Linked DNA regions of Homo sapiens: region 2 is linked to region 1. Evidence: fine-mapped expression QTL. Tissue or cell type: whole blood. Region 1 holds a variant in brackets; the other region holds the start of a gene. All regions are shown on one strand. Distances are between the middles of the regions. Region 1 overlaps COG6 (component of oligomeric golgi complex 6). Region 2 holds the start of COG6 (component of oligomeric golgi complex 6).

The links. PIP is the estimated chance that this variant, and not a neighbour inherited with it, causes the effect. A credible set is the group of variants that fine-mapping cannot tell apart.
Region 2: COG6 starts here. The variant in region 1 is the best candidate, but not a certain one, in a credible set for the expression of COG6 in whole blood (TOPMed, PIP 0.89).

Annotation. Positions count from the first base shown.
Region 1 is chr13:39,736,669-39,744,668 of GRCh38, forward strand. The region is part of intron 18 of COG6 (component of oligomeric golgi complex 6); the gene reads left to right. Among named protein-coding and RNA genes, the nearest start is that of MIR4305, 77 kb to the left of the region's middle. The variant G/A (reference allele first, on the strand shown) is at 3,962.
Region 2 is chr13:39,650,520-39,660,213 of GRCh38, forward strand. It overlaps COG6 (component of oligomeric golgi complex 6), which reads left to right and starts at 5,143. Exons shown (of 19, transcript NM_020751.3): 1 at 5,143-5,360; 2 at 8,845-8,988. The coding sequence starts at 5,208. RefSeq lists a silencer at 5,407-5,456.

The sequences.
Region 1 (8,000 bases):
CAAGAAGAGCAAAACTCCATTTCAAAAAAACAAAAAACAAGATTCTGAATTTCTTCTTTGTGTTATCTTGAATTTCTTTGCACTTCCTCGGCACAACTATTTTGATTTCTCTGTCTGAAAGGTCACATATGTCTGTCACTCTAGGGTTGGTCACTGGTGCCTTGTTTAATTTGTTTGGGGAAGTCATGTTTTCCTGGATGGTCTTGATGCTTGTAGATGTTCATCAGTGTCTGGGCATCGAAGAGGTGGGTGTTATAGTCTTCATAGTCTGGGCCTTGTACCTGTCCTTCTTATGAAGGCTTTCCAAGTATTCAAGGGGACTTGTGAATTAAGTCTTTGGTCACTGCAGCCATATCTACATTAGGGAACACCTCAAGCCCTGTGGCTCTTGCAGACTCAATGAGGGTACTACATTGGTGGTGTTGGGTGAGATCCAGGAGAACTTCCTGGATTACCAGGTGTAGACTCTTGTTCTCTTCCCTTACTTTCCCCCAGGCAAATAGAGTCTCCCTCTCTGTACTGAGCTGCCTCGGAGCTGGGGGAGTGGTGATACATGCCTCTTCGTGGCACCACCACTGGTACTGCGCTGGGTGAGATCCAAAGCAAGCATAGCATTGGGTCTTGCCCAAGGCCCACAGGGATCACTGCATGACTACTGCCTATGTTCCCTCAAGGTCCAAGGGCTCTGCAGTCCGCAAGTGATGAATCAGTGAGGCTTGTGTCCTTCCCTTCAGGGCAGTGAGTTTCCCTTGTCTCCGAGTGGGTCCAGAGAAGCTGTCTGGGATGCAGGGCCTGGAGTCAGGAACCTTAGGAATCTATTATATGTGGTGTTCTGTTCTGAGGTGGCTGAGCTGGCATCCAAGATACAGAACAAAGTCCTTCCCATGCTTCTGTCTCAAGCAGAAGGAAGGAGTCTTACCCGGAGCTACAAGCTGCATCACCTGGGGTTGCGGGAGGAGTGATGCAAGTACTCCCGTGGCTGCCCTAGCTGGTGTCTCACTAGGTCACGTGCACCCCAAGTCCACTGGCTCTAAGCCCAGCACAGCACAGAAGCTTGCCCAGGAATTAGAGCCCTTATGGCCCAAAACTTGCCCTTCAGTTTATTTCAGATCCCAGAGCACCTTATCCCATGGTGGTGGGGCTTGCCAGAACTCTGGTTCTGACCGCTGGGATGGAGGCTTCCCTTCTGACTAGTGCTGGTCTAAATGCTCCCTCTGTGGATGCTGGCTGAGTTCTGCCTGGTGTTGCTTTCTGCTGTGACAGGGCAGCACTAAATTCCAGTGCTACGTCCCACAATCACTCTTTTTTCTCCCTTCCACAAGCACATAAATTCTCTCTCCGCGCCATGCTGCCAGTGCCAGGGATTAGGGGAAGGATGGTGTAGGCAATTCAAGACTATCTTTCTTATCCTCTTTAGTGCCTCTTTCCTTAATATGATGTTAAAACCAAGTACTATGATTGCTCACCTAATTTTTGGTTCTTAGGAAGGTGATTTTTTGTGTGGATAGATTTGGCGTTCCTGCTTGGGGGACGATCTCTGGAGGCTTCTATTTGCTCATCTTTCTCCTAATTGTGGAATTTTAAACACATAAAACATACGACAACAAAAGTGCAAAAGATGCAGTGGGAGGGAAGTGGAAGTTTGGTGTTTTAATATTGTAAGGATATTAAGTTATCCATGAAATATATAATATTGATTGGAGGTAGACTGTAAACCTTCCCACAACCATTGAAACAAATAAAGTTATTTAGCATACCAATAGATAAGAACAAATAGAATTTTTAAAAAGTAATTGTATCAAAAGAAGGTGAAAAAGGAGGGTAAAAGAACAAATGAGACAAGTATGAAACAAGTAGCAGGAAGATAGACTTAATTGCAGCCTAATAAGTAACTGTACTAAATGTGAAAGTACTACAGATTTGAACTAAAAGACAAAATTGTTAGACTGGATGAAAAAGCATGGTACAACTATCTGCTATCTATAAAAAGTCCATTTTAAATATAAAGGTGGAGATAGTTTAAAAGGATGACAAAAGATATACCATGCAAGCACTAATCCTAAAGCTGGAGTAGCTATATTACTATAAGAAAAATTAGACTACAGACAGATAATAATACCAGAGATAAAACGTGACATTTTATAATAGGATTAATACATGAAGTAAATATAGTAGTATATCTGTGCATTTAATAGCAGAGCTGCAAATAACATGAAATATAAGCTTACAGGATTGATGAGGAGTAGCTGTATCAAGAAATACAGTTAGATATTTCTGCATAGTCCTCTCAGTAATTGATACAAAAAAATAGGAAATTAACATGATGCTTCATAGTTGAACAGTACTACCAATCTTTACCTAATAGAAATATTTAAAATACTACACACAAACTATAGAAAATACACATTGTTTTTAAGTACGGATAAAACATTCATGAAACTAATGTAAGAATGAGCAAAAAAGGAAATAAGAAATCCTAAGTAGATGAACGTAAGAACTCAAACTAGATGATTCTAGTTCTAGAAAGTTCCTAGCAAGAACTAGAAAAGTCATAGCAAGTTTTTCTTTATAAATTCCAAGCTAAATCAGTTTTTACAATGAATGTGGATAACTTAAGCTACCCTATTTTAACATACAAGAGTGTCAGTTTAGATTTCAAAAAAAAGCAAACCGCAGTTCACCTATATGCCCTTTACAAGAGACCATTTACAACAAAGTGGCATACAAAGAAAGAAAGAGTTGCAATATTAACAGGCAAAATTGAATTCAGGGTGTAAGTCAATAAAAGGTCAAAGGGAAATGTTTTATATTGATAAAAGTCATGCTTAAGTAGGTCTTAGGTAAAAATCCTGAAAGATATAAAAAATCATTTAAAAAAATCAAACATTCCATTGCATCAAGAGAGGAAACACTATAGCCAAAGCATACAAAGAAAAATCTTACTTGAATTTACTACATAAACCAGTTAGAGAAGAGTACCATGACACTATGTTGGAATATTGAAAATCTACAGCAAACATAATACTTAATGATGAAACATTAGAAACCTTTTCATTACAGTTCAAAACAATATATGCATAGTTACTGTCACATCTGTTTACCTTGGAGCTTCTAGCCATTGTAATGAATTGAGTCATAAATATTGAAAAGAATTAATAAAACTTATTAATTTTAAATGTCTGTACCAAAAACAAAAAAGGCAAGCAATTAACAAACTAATAGAACTAAAATAGAGTTGTTACTTGGCCAGATTCAAAATTAACATACTAAAATTAGTACCTCTTCTGTATACCAGAAATATCTAATTATAACAATGAAAAGTAAAAGACTTTATTATAATAGTCACAGGATTGTTTCCTAGAAATAAATTTGATAATATACGTGGAAAATTATATAATGAAACTTATAAAAATTTATTGAAAATTCTAAAAGATCTGACTAAATAGGCATACTCTGTTCATAGACTGAAAAATTCACTAGTGTAACAGGTTAATCTGTAAATAACTCCAACTTTAATCAAAATTCTCATGGAATCATTTCATTAAATATGTATCTAAGAAGTATATGAGAGAGGACTCATACTTCTGAACATCTCCATAATTAGCACTCTGGCCCAAGGTGGCATCATCTGTGCCTGGTTTATCACATTAACCTCTGAACTTTTCCATTTTCACACTTGCCCTCTCCACCACCATCCACCCAAGCCCTGCAGCCTAAACTGAACACTCAGAGTGATCCTTTAATAGATTACTTAGTTCAATTCTTTCGATGAATTTAAAAGAGGATATTGTTTAGAAAGACTAAGTAATTGAATCAAGGTCAAAAAATTTGTAAGAAGTAGAGCCATGATTTGTATCCAACATTTCTGATTCTAGACCCTATTCTCTTCAACACTAGACTATACTGTATTTTATTAGCTCTTTCTGTGTTGAGATTATTTTATTATTTTTAAAGAATGCTC[G/A]TAGACGTCTGGCATATATGATGATAGATGACACTTATCTGAAATATGTAGCTTGGCCTCATAAAAAATATGCTTTAATTTCATTTATAGACACATAGCTGACCTAGGATGAAAAATTGTCTTGACCCATTGTGACATTTCTTATATTTATATGGTAATGAAGAAAAATCAAAATTTTAACTAATCTGTTTTTCATAAGGATATTATCGTCTTTTCTTCTTGGGCTTTTAGGCTTAACGCCTTTTTTTCTCCTGTGGCACATTTGATTGCACTCTTAACTGCGGTGCTAAAATAAAACTCAATTTTAGTGATCACAGAATCTGATGTTGAAATAGTCTATTTCTGGAAATGCTGGGTTTATGGTAATGATGAAAGTTGTATCATGTTGTTATGGCAACCAAAATCCTAAAGTACAGATTAATGACAAGCTCACTGATTTTTGGAAGTAAGCAGTTCATTTCTTATCTCAGTTCAGTTTTAAATAATTATTTAGAATACAGTAAATTTCTTTGAACATATTTTAAAATGAGAATAATATCTCCATTTAGTTACATATCTAGAGATTCTCTTCTTCAAAGGATCACAGCTCCTCGCCAGCAATGGAACAAAGCTGGATAGAGAATGACTTTGACAAGCTGACAGAAGTAGGCTTCAGAAAGTCGATAATAACAAACTTCTCTGAGCTAAAGGAGGATGTTCGAACCCATTGCAAGGAAGCTAAAAACCTTGAAAAAAGATTAGATGAATGTCTAACTAGAATTAACAGTGTAGAGAAGACCTTAAATGACCTGATGGAGCTGAAAACCATGGCACGAGAACTATGTGACGCATGCACAAGCTTCAATAGTCGATTTGATCAAGTGGAAGAAAGGGTATCAGTGATTGAAGATCAAATTAATGAAATCAAGAAGAGAAGTTTAGAGAAAAAAGAGTAAAAAGAAACAAACAAAGCCTCCAAGAAATATGGGACTATGTGAAAAGACCAAATCTACGTTTGATTGGTGTACCTGAAAGTGACAGGGAGAGTGGAACCAAGTTGGAAAACACTCTTCAGGATGTTATCCAGGAGAACTTCCCCAACCTAGCAAGGCAGGCCAACATTCAAATTCAGGAAATGCAAAGAACACCACCAAGATACTCCTCGAGAAAAGCAACCCCAAGACATATAATTGTCAGATTCACCAAGATTGAAATGAAGGAAAAAATGTTAAGAGCAGCCAGAGAGAAAGGTCGGGTTACCCACAAAGGGAAGCCCATCAGACTAACCGCATATCTGTCAGCAGAAACTCTACAAGCCAGAAGACAGTGGGGTCAATATTCAACATTCTTAAATAAAAGAATTTTCAACCTAGAATTTCATATCCAGACAAACTAAGCTTCATAAGTGAAGGAGAAATAAAATCCTTTACAGACAAGCAAATGCTGAGAGATTTTGTTACTACCAGGCCTGCCTTATAAGAGCTCCTGAAGGAAGCACTAAACATGGAAAGGAACAGCCGGTACCAGCCACTGCAAAAACATGCCGAACTGTAAAGACCATTGATGCTGGGAAGAAACAGCATCAACTAACGGGCAAAATAACCAGCTAACATCATAATGACAGGATCAGATTCACACATAACAATATTAACCTTAAATGTAAATGGGCTAAATGCCCCAATTAAAAGACACAGACTGGCAAATTGGATAAAGAGTCAAGACACATCAGTGTGCTGTATTCAGGAGACCCATCTCACATGCAGAGACACACATAGGCTCAAAATAAAGGGATGGAGGAAGATCTACCAAGCAAATGGAAAACAAAAAAAGGCAGGGGTTGCAATCCTAGTCTCTGATAGAACAGACTTTAAACCAACAAAGATCAAAAGAGACAAAGAAGGCCATTACATAATGGTAAAGGGATCAATTCAACAAGAAGAGCTAACTATCCTAAATATATATGCACCCAATACAGGAGCACCCAGATTCATAAAGCAAGTCCTTAGAGACCTACAAAGAGGCTTAGACTCCCACACAATAATAATGGGAGATTTTAACACCCCACTGTCAACATTAGACAGATCAACGAGACAGAAAGTTAACAAGGATATCCAGGACTTGAACTCACCTCTACAGCAAGCAGACCTAATAGACATCTACAGAACTCTCCACCCCAAATCAACAGAATATACATTCTTCTCAGCACCACATCGCACTTATTCCAAAATTGACCACATAGTTCGAAGTAAAGCACTCCTCAGCAAATATAAAAGAACAGAAATCACAACAAACTGTCTCTCAGACCACAGTGCAATCAAACTAGAACTCAGGATTAAGAAACTCACTCAAAACTGCACAACTACATGGAAACTGAACAACCTGCTCCTGAATGACTACTGGGTACATAACGAAATCAAGGCAGAAATAAAGATGTTCTCTGAAACTAATGAGAACAAAGACACAACATACCAGAATCTCTGGGACACATTTAAAGCAGTGTGTGAGGGAAATTTATAGCACTAAATGCCCAAAAGAGAAAGCAGGAAAGATCTAAAATCGACACCCTAACATCACAATTAAAAGAACTAGAGAAGCAAGAGCAAACAAATTGAAAAGCTAGCAGAAGGCAAGAAATGACTAAGATCAGAGCAGAACTGAAGGACATAGAGACACAAAAAACCCTTAAAAAAATCAATGAATCCAGGAGCTGGTTTTTTGAAAGGATCAACAAAATTGATAGACGGCTAGCAAGACTAATAAAGAAGAAAAGAGAGAAGAATCAAATAGATGCAATAAAAAATGATAAAGGGAATATCACCACTGATACCACAGACATACAAACTACCATCAGAGAATACTATAAACACCTCTATGCAAATAATCTAGAAAACCTAGAAGAAATGGATAAATTCCTTGACACATACACCCTCCCAAGACTAAACCAAGAAGAAGTTGAATCTCTGAATAGACCAATAACAGGCTCTGAAATTGAGGCAATAATTAATAGCCTACCAACCAAAAAAAAGTCCAGGACCAGATGGATTCACAGGTGAATTCTACCAGAGGTACAAAGAGGAGCTGGTACCATCCATTCTGAAACTTCCAATCAATAGAAAAAGAGGGAATCCTCCCTAACTCATGTTATGAGGCCAGCATCATCCTGATACCAAAGCCTGGCAGAGACACAACAAAAAAAGAGAATTTTAGACCAATATCCCTGATGAACATCGATGCAAAAATCCTCAATAAAATACTGGCAAACTGAATCCAGCAGCACATCAAAAAACTTACCCACCAAGATCAAATTGGCTTCATCCCTGGGATGCAAGGCTGGTTTAACCTATGCAAATCAATAAACATAACCTATCATATAAACAGAACCAGTGACAAAAACCACATGATTATCTCAATAAACGCAGAAAGGGCCTTCGACAAAATTCCACAGCCCTTCATGCTAAAAACTCTCAATAAACTAGGTATTGATGGAATGTGTCTTAAAATAATAAGAGCTATTTATGACAAACCCACAGCCAATATCATACTGAACAGGCAAAAACTGGAAGCATTCCCTTTGAAAACTGGCACAAGACAGGGATGCCCTCTCTCACCACTCCTATTCAACATAGTGTTGGAAGTTCTGGCCAGGGCAATCAGGCAAGAGAGAGAAATAAAGGATATTTAATTAGGAAAAGAGGAAGTCAAATCATCCCTGTTTGCAGATGACATGATTGCATATTTAGAAAACCCCATTTTCCCAGCCCAAAATCTCCTTACGCTGACAAGCAACTTCAGCAAAGTCTCAGGATACAAAATCAATGTGCAAAAATCACAAGCATTCCTATACACCAATAACAGACAAACAGAGAGCCAAATCATGAGTGAACTCCCATTCACAATTGCTACAAAGAGAATAAAATAACCTAGGAATCCAACTTACAAGGGATGTGAAGGACCTCTTCAAGGAGAACTACAAACCACTGCTCAACAAAATAAAAGAGGACACAAACAAATGGAAGAACATTTCATGCTCATAGATGGGAAGAATCAGTATTGTGAAAAT
Region 2 (9,694 bases), 85 kb before region 1:
TAAGCTTTCAGATGACTGCAGTCCTAGGTAATATCTGATTGCAGCTTCATGAGAGACCCTGAGCCTAAACCGCCTAGCCAAGTCACTCTTGATTTCCTGACTGACAGAAGTTATGATTTTTTTTAATATACTAGTTTTGGGGAAATATGTTAAGCAATATCAGATAACTAAAATACTTACGGCTTGGAACAGTGGTTGTCAACCCCGGACAATTTTGCCCCTCAGGGACATTGGCAATGTCTGGAGACATTTTGATCGTTCCAACTGGGGAGGATGCTACTGGCATTTAGTAGGTAGAGGCCAGTAATGCTGCTAAACATCCTACAGTGAACAGAATAGTTCCCAACAACAACAAAATATGCAGCCCCAAATGTCAATGGTGCCAAAGTTAAGAAATCCTGAATCCTAGAATAACTTAAATAACATTGGAATCAATTTTTTTTTTTTAAAACATAAGGTCTCACTCTGTCGACCAGGCTGGTGTGCAGTGGCATGATCTCGGCTCACTGCAACCTCCGCCTCCCAGGCTCAAGCAATCCTCCCACCTCAACCTCCTGAGTAGCTGAGACTACAGGTGTGTGCGATACCACGCTTGGCGAAATTTTTGTATTTTTGAAGTGACAGGGTTTCTCCCTCTTGCCTAGGCTGGTCTCAAACTCCTGGGCTCAAGTTATCTGCCTGCCTCAGCCTCCAAAAGTACTAGGATTAGAGGTGTGAGCCACCATGCCCAGCCCAAATATTTTCTTTCTTTCCTTCTCCTTTTCTTTCCTTCTTCTTTTCTCTCCTGCTTTCTTTTCTTTTCTCCACACCCGCCTCCAGCCCTCCCTCTCTTTCTTTTTTCTTTTTTTTTGGTGACAGATTCTCACTCTGTTACCCAGGCTGGAGTGCAGTGGTGCAATCACGGCTCACTGCAGCCTCAACCTTCTGAGATCAAGTGATCCTCCCACTTCAGCCTCCCAAGTAGCTGGGATACAAACATGCACCACCACAACTGGCTAATTTTTAAAATTTTCTATAGAAGTGGGGTCTCTTGATGTTGCCCAGGCTAGTCTCGTATTCCTGGGCTCAAGTGATCCTCCTGCCTCTATCTCCCAAAGTGCTGGGATTACAGGTATAAACCACTGTGCCCAGCCTCTGTATCTTTTTCTTTTCTTCTTCTTTTTTTTTTTTTTTTTTTTTTTAAAGAAGGGGTCTTGCTCTACCATCCAGGCTGGAGTGCAGTGGTGCAATCTTGGCTCACTGCAACCTCTGCCTCCCAGGTTCAAGCGATTCTCCTGCCTCAGCCTCCTGAGTAGCTGGGATTACAGGCATGAGCCACCACACCCGGCTCCATATCTTTTTTAATTTTGGATTTTTAATCACCTTTACAGGCAGCGGTAATTGATGAAGTAAGTCCTGACCAACATAAAAACACATTTTTGCAATGAGGTGCTAAAGAGTCACACAACTTCTTTTGCAAGCTAGTTGAATTCCAAGATCCTGTCCTTTTTGGAGTTTTGGAAAACAATATGTGAAATAGGTTATTATTTTAATTCTAACACTTTTTCTATAGATCCTTCTGGATTATCTAGGGACACATTGCATCACCTATCAAAAAGTGTAAATTTTAAAAATTCTCTCTAATCTTTATGACTTTTTTCTTAGTTTATTATTCTGGTTTGAGCTTCTAGTGAAATATTGAATAGCAGTGTTAGTGGATAGTTTTTGTCTTATTCTTGATGTCAAGGAGAAAGTTTTAAATATTTCCTTAGGTGTGATGTTTGTCATAGGGTTTTTTTTTGTATATACTCTCAATCCAATTAAGGAAATCCCCTTTTATTCAAATTGCTAAGAGTTTACTTGTTTCTTTAATCATGAATGGATATTGGATTTTATCATCGGCTTTTTCTCAATCTATAGAAAAGCTCACATGGGAGAAAGAATAGTCCTTTTAGCAAATGGTGTGGGAGACAACTGAATATCCACATTTAAGACAATAAAACTGGATCCCTACCTAACATCCATACACAAAAATTAGCTCAAGGTACAAGATAGGCTTTAATATAAGTGCTGAAACTATAAAATTTTATTAGGCCTGTGCAAAAGTAATTGCGATTTTTGCCATTACTTTCAATGGCAAAACCTGCAATTACTTTTGTGCCAATGTAATAGAAGAAAACACAGGAATAAATTTTTGTGATCTAGGTTGGGTAATAATTTCTTGAATAAGGCACCAAAAGCACAAATAATAAAAAAGGAAATTGATAAGTTGTATCTCATCAAATTAAGATTAATTGTGCTTCAAAGGATGCCATTGAGAAAGTGAAAAGACAAGCAAAAGTAGGAAAAAATATTTTCCAATAAATTGTTAGGACTAGTATCCAGAATATATAAAGAATTCTTACAACTCAATATCACTAGTCACTAGGAAATGGAAAGCCAAATCTCAATGAGGTATCATATCACACTGAGTAGGATGGATAAGATAAAAAAGACAGACCATAATGAGTGTTAGTCAGGATGTGAAGAATACTGGAGCCCCTCATACAGTGCTGGTGGGAATGAAAAATGGGGCAGTCACTTCGGAAAACTATTTGACAGTTTCTCAAAACATTAAACATAGAGTTAACCATAAGAACAATCTACTCCTAGGTATCTTCCTAAGGAAAGTGAAAACATACATCCACACAAAAACTCTCACATGAAAATTCACAGAGACATTTTTCATAAAAGCCAAAAATTTGAAACTACCTAAATAGCCATCTGACGAATGAATAAAATATGGGAGATCCATACAATGGATTATTATTTGGCAATAATAGGGAATGAAACACTGATACAAGCTACAAAATAGATGAACCTTGAAAAATTATGCTAAGTGAAAGAAGTCAGGCATGAAATGTTACATATTGTATAATTCTGTTTATATGAAATGTCCAAACTGGCATATCTATAGAGACAGAGAGCAGATTTGTGGTTTCCTAGGGTGGTAGAGAGGGGAAAATGGGGAGTGCTAGTGGGTACAGTTTTCTTCTTAAAGTAATGAAAATGTCTTAAAATTAGATGATGGTGATATTTGCCAACTCTGTAAATGAACTAAAAGCTGTCATATTTTATACTTTTAATAGGTGAAGTTTATGGCCTGTAAATTATATCTAAATAAAGATTTTAAAAATTAATATAAATTTGTATTTTTTATTACTTAAACATTTTGTCTATTTATCTCCAATTTACTTTTTAAAATAAACAGCTTTATTTTTTTTTTTTCAATTTTAAGATAGGGCCTTGCTCCATCACCCAGGCTAGAGTAGAGGGCAGTGGCATGATTATGACTTACCGCAGGCTTGAGCTCAAGTGATACTCCCACCTCAACCTTCCAAGTAGCTGGGACCACAGGCATGCCACCACACTCGACTAGTTTTCGTATTTTTTTTTTTTTTTTTGTAGAGACAGGGTCTCGCTATGTTGCCCAGGCTGGTCTTTAACTCCTGAACTCGAGATCCCCCTGCCTAAGCCTCCCAAAGTGCTGGGAATACAGGTGTGAGCCACCATACCTGGCCTAAAAAACAGATTTGAGATGAAACTTGCATGCCATTCAATTCATTCATTTAAAGTGTACAGTTCAGTGTTTTTTAGTATATTTACAGAGTTGTGCAACCATCACCACAATTTAGCTTTAGAGTATTTTCATCTCCCCAAAAATTAACCTGTACCATGAACTGACACTCCCCATTCCCTCTTCCCAACACTCCTCTTCCCAGAACCACTCATCTACTTTCTATCTCTATTGATTTACCTATTTGGGAGATTTCACATAAAGAGGTCATACAATATGTGGTATTTCATGACCGCTCCTGACTTGGCATGTTATCATCGTCATTCCTTTTAATTGTACATATTTGCAAGCTCTACATTATATTATTGCTTTGTATATATGCAAATTCATTTGGATATATACACCTTAGGTAAACCTTTGATATTTTAATTTTGGTTACACTGAACTTAAATTTATCTGTGAAAGAGAAAAGACATCTTACAATATTGAGTCTTCCTGTTGAAGAGAACAATATATTTTTTCATTGATTTAAGTTTTATGTTCTCCCAGTAGCATTTTAAAGTTTTCTTCATCTAGGTTCTCTGTATTTTTTGTTGAATTCATACCTAGATATTGCTGCTTTTTGTATATTTTTTTCTTTTGGATAGTTGGGCCTTCTCTTCTTCATTAGAGTAGAGATGAGTGGTTTTGTCAGTGCTTTCTTTATGTGACCTCTGTAATAGGTAATTTTCCCTTAAGTCTGATATACAATATAACTATGTACATAGACATATATGAAACAAGGAAAATTTATGACAAGAGCCAAATAGTGTTTCTGACAAATAATTCACAGAAGCCCAGCGATTTTATTTTGATCCAAATTTTAAAAACTGAGAAAAGAAAGAAAAAAAGCAATGATGTTTGTTTTCCAGAGTTTCCCGGGAAGTTTTTTCAACTTGTTACATTTTTATCCATTACTTTACAGCTACATGGGCTCTGGTCCATTTGTGTCAGGGCCAAGTTCATCTTGTTTTGAGGCCTGTACACTTACACACTTTCTTCTGCCTGGGAATGATTTCTCCTCACATTCTGATTCTCCTTCAAATCTCAGTTTAAGTGTCAACTCCTCTCCAAACCTCCCTGAGTGAAGTGGGCCTTTCCCTCCATTTTCTTTCACTGTACTACTTCATCCCCTGAGCACTCATCACAACCTAATAACATCTATTAACAGCTTTGTCTGTTTCAGACACACAATGTAGATTCTCCAATGCCTACCAGAGTACCTGGCACATACTATGCCTTCAATAAATAATTTTCAAAAAAATGAATTCAGATAAGGCAAATGTAATTTAAACTTTCAGTTAACTTATATTGAATGTATATGCCAGGCACAAGTCATGGTGTATTTTACATACTACATTTGGTTGTCATCTAATTAGCTCTGAAGGTCGCAGATCCATAATTCCAAAGTCCTCTCTAATCCTATAAATTTTCTCCTTCTACCTGAGGGTCTTGTCCCGCCCCCCACATCTTCTCCGCCCCTCACGCTTCTGAGAGCCCAAGCAGGGTTACCCGGCGAAGACTTCCGGGGCCGATGCGCATGCGCGGCCGATTTGCACATGCGCAATACTCGCGCTGCCTCCGTGGTCCCTGCCTGGCTGAGGTGGCAGCAGGGGGCGGGACGCGCAGCGCTATGGCAGAGGGCAGCGGGGAAGTGGTCGCAGTGTCTGCGACCGGGGCTGCCAACGGCCTCAACAATGGGGCAGGCGGGACCTCGGCGACGACCTGCAACCCGCTGTCGCGCAAGCTGCATAAGATCCTGGAGACGCGGCTGGACAACGACAAGGTAACCGGGGCTGGCGGGGCCGGAGTCACAGGTTCCTGCGGGGCTGAGCCGGGCCAGGGGCGGCGTCTGTCAGGGACCCACCGCGGTCTCCCTCGTCCCGGCAGCAGAGGGACCGCGAGTGACCCCAGACCTGCGGGCTCCGCTGCTCTGCGGGCGCCGGGGGCGGTGAGAAGGGGGAGCCCCAGCAACCTCCGGAAAAGCGAAGGGGTTTCCTGGGTGTTCTCTCCACCTGAAAAGGTGCCTTCAAGGCTCTCTGGATGGGATTGGTGAACGGTGGTGCCTCGAGAAGTGTCCTCCAAACACCCCTGGAGGCGTTTGGCTGTGTGAGCTGGGAGAGTGGAGGAGAGCACAAGACTGGATATGAAACAGATGCAAAAGAGCAGATTCCAAGATAAGGTAGCGCAAATGGGGGTCGGGAGACCAAGAGAGCAGTGGTAGGGATAAGGGTGCATTTCCACGGACAAGTGACAACAATTGCAATAATTTGCAGCGCGAAAGAACTACCTTTGCCCGTGGCTGAAATGAACTCATATCTACTAGTTTTTGTTGAGCCAAGCGCTATGATTTGTGGGCTCAGGCTGTATTTCTTTAGAAGATAAACTGACAGCATGCTCTCACAAGTACCTCCTGAAACTTAAGTTGGACTTTACAGCTCCTCACATACCCAGCCATCTCTTCTGTCTCTGTGGGTCGCTAGGTAAATTGGTCATGACAGTGTAACATAAAGAAGAACATATGTCAAAGTTAGAGAGTTTTATAGGTGAATATGTAGGTAACTGAAAATAAGCTGTCGATAACAATTTGATTCCGATATGTAAAAAAATAACATTGCAATGTAATGAATAAGAAATTAGGGCTCTGGAGACTACCACTTATTAGATAGAACCACTAAATGTGTGCATCATGATTTGAGTAAGTCCCTTCACTAATCTCAGCTTCTGTTTAGGAATTAGGAATCCTGCTGTTAAGTTTCTCATGGTTGTTATTTGAGGACTCAGTGAGAGACTCCAGGTAAAGTCCTTTGCAAAGAGCCTGGCACTTACTCTTTCTTAACAAATATTAATTTTATCATAAAATTTATGAAGTGTTTAATGTGTCTCATATTGATATTTATTATATCATTTAAGACTGCTACTTGCTCTGATATAGATAACATGGCCTTCTTTTTTGGACAGAGTTTTGCTCTTTTTGCCCAAGCTGGAGTGCAATGGGCGCAGTCTCGGCTCACTGCAACCTCTGCCTCCCGGGTTCAAGCGATTCTCCTGCCTCAGCCTCCCAAGTAGCTGGGATTACAGGCATGTGCCACCACGCCTGGCTAATTTTGTATTTTTATTAGAGACGGGGTTTCTCCATGTTGGTCAGGCTGGTCTTGAACTCCTGACCTCAGGTGATCTGCCCGCCTCAGCCTCCCAAAGTGCTGGGATTACAAGGCGTGAACCACTGCGCCCGGCCACATAACCTTCTTTTTACCATGAGGAAAATAAAGCATGGAGAGAGTGCAGCTAGGTTGTCATATAACTAGTAACTGGTGGAACTGTAATTTGCATCTGAGTCTGTGATTTCATTCGTTCAACATTACTGATTACTTCTTTGAACCAGACCTTAGGACATTTCAAGGCTATAGTCTAAAGAAACTGCTTCACTTCATGGGTTTTTTTTTTCTGTACAGTAAGTATTTATAGTTGTAAACATATTTTTGCTTCCTCTGAAATATTAAATTGAATTTATATAAATAGTTTTACTGTTTTTGTCAATCCAGCCAATATTTCAAAATAACAAATAGAAACATGAAAGGGTAAGCCTACTAGAATATACAGTAGTGGAGGTGTAGAAATGTATATCTGCAGAATTTAGTGTACAATGGGGATGTCCTGGGCTTGGTTCTCTGCTCTCTCTTCCATTCATGTTTTCTCTGTAAGAAAAATCTTGTACTTTCATGGTTTTAAGTAGCAAAAAGCATGATTACTCTCAAATTTATAACTCTGTTTCTGACATCTACTGAGCTCCAGATTTGTAGAATTAGTTGTCTATACTATACCTCCAATTGGATACTGATTGACGTCATAGAACTTAACATGGGCGGAACTCTTGATTTTTCCCTAAACTGGTTCCGCTCTCACTAAAGAACGTCACCATTTACCCAGTCAAGCAAGAAGCATATGAATAATTTTGGATTCTTGTCACTTTTTTTTTTTTTTTTTTACATCTCCTGCAAATCCACAAACATATCTTATAGGTTCTACTTTGAAGAATATTTTTGGAATATCTTTTTTTTTTTTTTGAGACCAAGTCTCACTCTGTCGCCCAGGCTGGAGTCCAATGGAGAGAACATGGCCTTACTGTAGCCTTGATCTTGCTGGCTCAAGCGATCCTCCTGCCACAGCCTCCCAGGTAGCTGGGTCTACAGGCACATGCCACCATACCTGGCTAATTTTTTGATTTTTTTATAGAGATAGGGGTCTTACTATGTTATGCAGGCTGGTCTTGAACTGGCATCAAACTATCCTCCCAACTTGACCTCCCAAACTGCTGGGATTACAGGTGTAAGCCACCGTGCCATATTTTGGAATATCTCTTTTTCATTTGTACTACTGCCATCTTGGTCTAAGCCACTATCAAACCATACTGGGATTATTTTTGTTTTTTCTCTTACCTACCTCCTTTCTTGTACCCCTTTACCATTCATTTTCCTTACAAAGTTGGAATAAACTTTTATAAATATAAATCGTATTACATTACTCCCCTGCCTAAAATCGTAATAATTTCTCATAACTTCAGTCATAGTGGCCTTCCTTCTACCACTTTAGGGTCTTTGTACTCATTGTTTGCTCTGTCTGTGGAAGGCTTTGTCCCCATGACTGGCTGTTGCCTACACTGAGGCCTCAGTTCAAAGTCACCTCAGAGAGGCCTTCCCCTTTAAGTTTCTCCAAGTTCTACTTCCAGTTATTCAGTTTCTAGCCTGGAGGATTCCAGTACTTATTCTTAAATAGATCATTCCAGAGATAGTTAATGTGCACATTATATATGTGTCAACTAGGTATACACAAGTAAGTATGCATGTATATATTCCTTTTAAGTTTTTAACTGTTGGTATTACAACTGTTTCTATGCCTTGATGTTTCACTTAACATATCTCAAAGCTTATACTACGTAAGTGCATAAAGATTTTTTTTTTGTGAATGAGTATATCATAATTTATTTAACCAATCCCTTTTAGATGGACATTTATATTATTTCTAGTCTTTGCAATTCCCAACAATTCTGCAGTGAATAATCTTGTATATATAACACTATACACAAGTAAGTATACCCTTCTTGTGTTCTGGAAATAAGCATGCTTCAGTAATTTGAAGGTCATTCAATATTTTTCGGATTGGTTAATGAAAATAAATCATTTGAAAATGATTTCATTACATTTTGTCTTGAGATTTGAAACCATTTAAAAATTAGTTCCAGTAACTGTCTTCTGTTACCAATTGTATAGGAGATGTTAGAAGCTCTCAAGGCACTTTCAACCTTTTTTGTTGAAAATAGTCTGCGGACTCGAAGAAATTTACGTGGAGATATTGAACGTAAAAGTTTAGCCATCAATGAAGAATTTGTAAGCATTTTCAAGGAAGTGAAGGAGGTATGTAAACTCTTTTCATTTAGCATATATTGAGAACTTACTATTACGCCTGGCTCTGTGCTAAGTATTTTTTTGAATTAGGTTGATATGTTTGCTATTTGTATACTATGCCCAAATAGAAAGCTTAGCTAATTTCTCTTGCTGCATCTAGATCTTTATTTGTATTAATGTGATTTATGAATCTGTGACTTCCACAAATATTAATTCTTAGAAAGTTAACATTGTTCTAGAAGATTATCTTAGGAATTTTAGCTTTTTTAACAAAAAAATTAACATTTCCCTGAATGGCTTTCCAATAGAAATATCCCCTCATTGCATAAACCTCTCTTGGATAACAACTTCTCTACTGGAGATTAATTAGAATTGAGTTACTTTTACTATATCCTAAAATATGAAAATTTCAGATTAAGATCAGTAACTTCAATGTATTAATAATGATTCATCATACTTGAGAGTGTAGTCCACTCACCACAGAGTGAAAATAAATTTTATGTTATTATATCTTTATTATGTAATATTTTATTAGCTGTTTTAATACATTGTAATACTAATATATTTCTATGTGAGTTATGGAAGTGTTGCACATGGTTTCAATGAGTGTTCAATAAAAATAGGTTGTTTTTGACACCTTGGTAGGTTTTTATTGACTGAAGACTAATACTTTGGAAAGGATTTTTTTAAAAAAAATTACATTAGAGATGGACTC